2 linked regions of the Homo sapiens genome follow. The protein of the gene in region 2 interacts with the protein of the main gene of each other region in a pairwise test. Each region holds a gene or a part of one and is shown on either strand. Other genes may lie near its edges. The genes, in order: HIPK3 and LIMS2.

The links.
Region 1: the proteins of LIMS2 (region 2) and HIPK3 interact in a two-hybrid assay, tested with the Homo sapiens proteins (one large-scale study listed by BioGRID and IntAct).

What each region holds. Positions count from the first base shown.
Region 1 is NC_000011.10:33,354,376-33,357,765, reverse strand, and holds the end of HIPK3 (homeodomain-interacting protein kinase 3), read right to left. Parts: 3' UTR 743-3,390; downstream 1-742. UniProt on the Homo sapiens protein: Serine/threonine-protein kinase involved in transcription regulation, apoptosis and steroidogenic gene expression. Phosphorylates JUN and RUNX2. Seems to negatively regulate apoptosis by promoting FADD phosphorylation.
Region 2 is NC_000002.12:127,637,849-127,641,469, forward strand, and holds the end of LIMS2 (LIM and senescent cell antigen-like-containing domain protein 2), read right to left. Parts: intron 3,141-3,621; coding exon 3,048-3,140; intron 2,499-3,047; coding exon of another isoform or gene 2,471-2,498; coding exon 2,422-2,470; intron 2,298-2,421; coding exon 2,222-2,297; intron 1,581-2,221; coding exon 1,433-1,580; 3' UTR 578-1,432; downstream 1-577. UniProt on the Homo sapiens protein: Adapter protein in a cytoplasmic complex linking beta-integrins to the actin cytoskeleton, bridges the complex to cell surface receptor tyrosine kinases and growth factor receptors. Plays a role in modulating cell spreading and migration.

The sequences.
Region 1 (3,390 bases), on a different chromosome or scaffold from region 2:
CACAAAGGATTACTATACAGCAATGAGTATAAATGAACTACACACAACATGGATGTATCTTATAAATGTTTAACAAAAAATAGCCAGATGCCAAAGAATGCATATATGTTATACTTCAATTAAACATTGATAGGGGAAGGCAGAAATTGAAAATACGTATTCTCACTATTGTGTTCTGGGGGAGTGCTCCCCTAGAAACTTTCCAACTGAGGTTCCTTGAAAGTTAGATCCTTGAATTATGAGGTGTTGGTATTTTAGGATGTAAGCTGGCCTACTACAATCACATTCTTTCGAAGTCATATGTTTTAAGTATTAAAGATACATGTGAATTCCCTATTCATCCACACATATTGAACAGAAATTATTTCTCTCAAAAAATATTTGCGGAAACTTAATATTGAAGGAAAATGGGACAGGGTCATCTTATGGTTGCAGGTAGTCCGGGTACACTGCCTCAGACTTCGGTTTTAAAAGAACTGATAGAAAGTAGATTAGTTATGGTTTGATATCCTGGTGTGTATCTCAGATTCCAACTCATTGACAATGTGACTTTGTGCAAGTTCCCTAAACATTCTGCAGCTATGCCCTCATTTGTGTAACAAAGATAATAATACCTATCTCACAAGGTGGCTTTGAGAGTTAAATAAGATGATGTAAGTTATTAATAGATACTCAATATTGTTAACCTCTCCCTTCCCTACCCTGTAAGGAGTATTGGGGTGGAAAAAAAGTCAACAAGCTGTTTGCTGCAATATATATATTTTAATTCAAAGTGAATCGACAGTAATACACCATAAATTCTTATTTTGACACTCACCAAAATAGTCACCTGGAAAACCCGCTTTTTGTGACAAAGTACAGAAGGCTTGGTCACATTTAAATCACTGAGAACTAGAGAGAAATACTATCGCAAACCGTAATAGACATTACATCCATAAAATTTTCCCAGTCCTTATTGTAATATTGCACAGTGCAATTGCTACATGGCAAACTAGTGTAGCATAGGAGTAAAAGCAAAAACAAATAAACCAAAGAAAGAAAGCCACAAGTCTAAAATTGTTAAACAATTAACAGTTCAAACTTAGTAATCAAATCTGTATCATTGGATTCATTAAAACAAATCTTCCTACACCTTGCAGTGTATGATTTAACTTTTACTTAACACAGTCCAAGTTTAAAATTAGCAGATTTTAAAAATGAAAATGTTTTGCTAATACAGTAACATATTTAATTAAACACGCTGGAGGAAAAAAAAAACAACTAAATATCAGGATATTTGATTTAAAAAACATTTTGCAAATTAAAATAGTATGCAAATATGCAACTTGGAAATCATGCAGTGTTTTATTTAAGAAAGCATTAAAACCGAAGAAAACTGGTCAAAATGGTTTTTAAAAGGTATAAATCCAGATTACTTTGTCAATATGCTAAATTAAGAATTTAGCAGAATTTTGAAATTTATTTTAAAATACATTAAAATGCCCATGATTGCAATTAAAGAGCAGTGTAGTTAACTGGGATATACCTTTATCAAACATTAATACTGTATTATGAAAATGTTGAAGTTTACCATTTATGTCAATTTAACAAGACTGCTTTAAGTCTTGGAAATTAAAGACAAAAAATACAACATTTCAGGGTAGTAAACATGGCCCTAAACAAAAAGAAAACTCTGTCAGTTTTGTACCTGTTGTGATACAATCAATCCTTTGCACTTGGTGTTTCTGAAACAATGTGTTGCCAGCATTGATTCTTTCCTAAGAAGTAAGCAGATCCTAATAATCTGCTGGAACATATAAATAAAATTAGAAGGCTGTGGAGGGCAGCAAATTTACTTAAATAGTGACCCCATAAATGTGTCATCTGTAAATAATCTTTTAAATTAATCTTAGGCTACTCCTTTTTAAACATTTAATTTTTTATATATATATATTTCTATTTGTATAAAATGCATAGAATTAATTACTAAAAACACTGAAACTTGTGGGGAAAATTAAGTCCTTCATTTTCAGTGTGACTAAAAATGTACTGCTGGTTTTTACTTTATGATCTAATACTGTAATTTTTAAAATCAATTTCAGGCACATTTATTTCATTGATGATTATTAAATAAAACACTGCTTGTGTTAATGGAGTGAAGAAAACTTATCCATTATTAGCTTATTGTGAACGCTGTACTAGAGCTGTACTAGTGGTATACAATTCATTTATCAAAGAAACGCTGTAAATCCAAAACATCTAGAGTTTTACACTCCAATGCTTTGTACTGTTTATTCCAGTAAATGCTGTAAGATTATATTCCAGATTTTTAAGGAAAAAAGTTAAGTCAAGCCTGCAAGATACAGCTTTCTCAAGTGTCTACAATGCCAGTATGAAAATAAAAAATTAAGTTACACTGATACATCCAAGTTTTTTTAATATGCAGTGATGAGCACAAACATTAATAGAGATAAAATACTGATGCAAATAACACACCCCAAAGTAACAAATGCAATTATTTTCCACCATTTACAATACAGTAGTTACAATGACACTCCAAACAGAAAAGCAAAGTAAAAAATCAAAACCCCAATTTCTATTCATGTAATTAGACTTATACAGAAATTAGAAGGCTAAATAACAACTAGTTAATCACCTAATTTCACAGCTATCTGAAGTGGCAATCGTTATATAGCAGCTTATCTATGATACATTCAAGATAAATGATACAATTTATTACTTGCCTGTAAGCTAAAACACAGCCTCAATTTAATACCTTTCCTTAAATTCCACCTTTACACTACAATATACTTGAGGTCTATGCAAAAAGTAGCTACCTTTATATAGGAAATGGATGATTAAGTCTTTGGTGCTGTAAAAGCAACTTCATTTAAACAGACATAACCACTACCATCACCACCACCCAAAAAAGAAAAAAATGTCGGGGAAGGGGGGAACTCAACACACTTCCTAGAAAGAAAAAAAAGCATGTAATTTCTGTCCCTGACGGAATGTATTAAATAAGCAAACATCACCAACAAGCAAAACAAGTACTGCAATGTAAAAATACTTAAAAAAAAAAAAAACCCTCTCACATGCATAAATCAAAAATTGCACACAAAGAACTCACATCTTTTCAAGCTTCAATAGTAAAAGTTCTGCTACTATTTATTAAATACTGCATGGTTTGCCCAAGCTAAGATAAAACCACATCATGAATCAATGAGCATTTTGCATTTTATTATCTACCCAAAGTCATGCCTACTGTACCTCTAAACATTTTATTAAGTCCAATTATACAGCAAACACTCTCAAAATAAACTTAGATTGTATTGCAGTTTCACTTAACAGTATATAAAATGCTGTGCTGTGACAGTTATCAACTATCCATTAGATACTGAATCAATTTTT
Region 2 (3,621 bases):
CGGAGGGCAGCTGCATTCTCCAGAAATGACTTCATCCCTCCCTTTCTGCTTCCTTCCTCCCCCTCCCTTCCTTCCTTCCTGTTTCTCAGACTGGGGAGGGGCACTCATGGGAGAGTTCTCCTCCCAGGCCCCTCCTCACACCTTCTGTCCTTCTCCCCACCCGGGGCATTGATACGCCTGCGCTACCCCCAGGAGGCCAGGGTGGAGGTGCGGCTCTCTGGCTGCTGGCTTCATGCTATGGCCAGCTTATGCCCAGACAGACAGTGGGCAGAGCTGGACATAGCACCTTGGAGGCCTGGATTCCCCCACCTCGCTGGCATGCCCTGTCCCTGCCCACCTCCTCCTCTGCCCACTGGGCCAGCTTATGTGGACCTGGCCACCCAGGCTTGTGAGGACCTGGCAGGGCTAGTCTTCAACTGCTTATGGCAGCCTGGCCTGGGATAGAGGCTAGGGCCCCCTGAACTCGTGCCTGTCTATGTCTGTCCCTCTGTTCAACTGCCCCAGCAGCAGCGTGTCCAGAGCTGCTGCCATCCCCTCCACCCCCGACCCCCGCCACAAACCACGCAGGCTGCTGTGGTTGTGTGAACAAGCCTTCATTGTGCAAGCGTGAGCCCAACAAACAAACACCAGGTCTGCGCTGGCCGAAGACGAAGCGTCCTCCCTGGAGGTGGGAACAAGTCACCTCTGACCACACCTCCTCTGACGCCATCACCTCCTCCTGGCCCCACCCAAGGGCTCGACACAAGCCCCAAGGTCGGGGGGAGAGGGGCGGGGCGGAACCGAGGGCGGAGGCCAAGGTGGGATTCCAGGAAGGCCTTCCGAAGGATGGAGGTGGGTCCTGTCCCTCCAGGTAGCTTGTGGGTGTGGACAGCAGGACTTGCTGGCTCAGTGTGGGCACAAGGACACTGTGCCACTGGTTGAGTGAGTGGTGAGGGATTGGAGGTGGCTCCCAGAGGCCTCCATCTGCATGGCCCTGGCCCTGTGGCTCCAGCAGGCTGCCCTGGCTGTGGGTAGCCCAGGAGCCACATGCGCTTAGTGGGGCCGCTCTGGGGCAGGGGCTCTCACAGGACAGCATGAGCCACTGAGCCGCCTGGGGAGGGCCAGGCCAGGCGGGGAGCTGTGGTGCAATTTGCTCCTGTCCCTGGAGGTCTGTGGGCGGAAGCTGTGGGCACAGGTGGACATGGCTGTCAGACGTGGGGTCATAGGCTCCCACTCCCCAGCTCCTGCCTCCTCACAGACAGAAGCCACGGCCAAGGAGAGGAGAGACATGGGGAAGGCAGAGATGAGGGAACAGGAAGGGAGAAGGCAATGAGGAAAGAGAAAGGGAGGGTAAGATGCGGAGGGCACAGGTGGATGGGGACGAGGGGGCCAAGCATGGACAGCAGGAGGGGAGAAGGCGGAGGGGCCGAGAGGCAGCTGCGCAAGAGGGCCTTCAGGCAGAGTTGAGGTCTGTGGCCTTGGGCTGGGCCTTGCGGGAGGTCAGCTCCGACAGCTTCTTCAGCCGCTTCTTCAGCTCCAGCGGGAACTTCTCGTAGCACCTCTTACACACGGGCTTCATGTCGAACTCCACAAACTTGTTCCTGAGGAGGAAGCTGAGCTGTCAGCAGAGCCCCACGCCCACCCCTTTAACCCCAGACAGGTGACTGTGGAGTGGGCTTCCCTCAGCCCCCAGCCTCCCCACACCAGCCTCTCCTAGCCAGCAGGCCAGGCCCTAGGGTGAGATGGCCAGAGAGCATAGGGATGAGAAGGGCCTTGAGGCTTCCCTTGCCTCCCAGAGGCTTCTCTCAGGTTCTGAAACCCCAGAACCCTCTATGCCTCCCCACAGCCCTTGGAAACCTGGACGCCATCTCTCCTCTCCCAGCTCCAGCCATCCCACACCCCTCGAGGCTTCCTGGATGAGCAGCTGACACTGCTGCTTTTGCATATGCTGTTCCCTGAGCTGGAATGCCCTTCCCTCCCCAGAGCCCAGGGTTCTGGCAGGTGTGTTGGAGGCATGAGTGTTCCTCCTCCTCTCACTGTGCCTGGGGTCCCTGGGGTCCCTGGATCCCCTAGACCCCCTGAACCTGCCCCCATCTCCCTGGGTGGTATAAGGCCGGGCTGCCCCTTGTCCCCACCATATCCCCAGGCCAGACTCAGCTGGTGTGCAGGAGGGCTGCTGAGAGGAAGGACCTGCAGGAGCCCCCTCCACCCTGAGCCCCATCCCACGATCACAGGGACTCACTTCAGGGTGAGCTTGCTGTTGCAGGTGGAGCAGGAGAAGCAGCTCACACACCAGGCCTTGTTGAGGGCCGACACCACTGTGAGGGAAGCGTGGGACTCAGCAGGCCTGGCTAGGCTGCCGCAGGCCCGGCTGGGCTCACAGCTGCAGCACCCAGGCCCCAGGAGAGCAGGTGGGGTGGGGGAGGGAACACAGGGCCTCACCATCGCCTTCAATCACATGGCTGCAGTTGTAGCAGACGTCCCCGAAGAGCTGTGGGCCGAGCAGGCTGTCAGAGTAGCTGCAGGCAGTCACACCCCAGCCCAGGGCCATCATGCAGCCAGCCTGGCCCTCCAACACGGCCCCTCTCAGGCATCTCCCAGGCCCTGCCTCCCAGGGCCCAGCTGCAAGGCTGGGTTGAGGGCACGGCAACCCATGAGAACCACCCTTCCGGGAAGGACAACAGGCTGGGGCGTTGCTCCCCAGAAGGCCCCTCTGCTCTGGCCACTGCTGTCCTGCAAGGAGGTGGGCCCAGGTGGTGACTGCATCCCACCAGCGCCCCCTGCCTTCTGTACCAGAGCAAGGGAGGGAGGGGGTTGCTGGCACTGTCAGCCCCATGTGCCCGGGACCTCACACCAGCCCCAGAACATTCTTCAAAGGAAGACACTGAGACTGAAGAGAGCTGCCCAGGTCTCGAGACCCCAGGCCAGGAGCCAGGGCTGAGGGTGCAGGCCTGGGCTCAGCACCTGGCAGAGCTCCTGAGGGGGTGCCCACAGCCTCCCTTGCTCACGGCAGCTCTCCTGGCCACCCCTCCAGACCCGCATCCCTGAAGGTTCTGCACCGGGCTCACCTGGTTGTAGTGAGTCTCGCAGTAGGCCAGGCCCTTCTTCTCATAGTGCCGGTGCCCCAGGAATGGCTTCTCACACTTGGCACAGACAAAGTGCTGCAAGGACAAAGGGCGGGCCGGGTGGCATCAGGGCTAGAGCGGTGACCCCGAGGGACAGTGGTGACCCGGGGACAACAGTGACCCCAGGAGCCAGTGACTCCAGGGGACCACAGTGGCCCCAGGAGGCAGCAGTGACAGAAGGGGACAGAAAGCAGAGTCTGGGCAGGTGCAGGCCTTTCAGGATTCACACTGGGCAGAGGGGACTGACACCTCTGTGAATGCCCTGGGGTCAGCAGACCCTACCCCTCCTCTAAGGCACTGATGGTAACCTTGTGAGTCACCATCCCCTCCCAGTCTGGCCTCCCCCTCGGCAGCCTCAGCCCCAGGAGTCAGGTGCCAGCCTGGTGCTGCGGCATGGTGGGCCCTCATAGGCAGAGGCGGCCCTGCCTGTCCACGTGGGGCCTCCTGCAGGCACCCCCTGCAAGCCTGGGATCACTGAGCAGCACCTTGCATTCCCCCAGGGATCTGCATGTGAGGA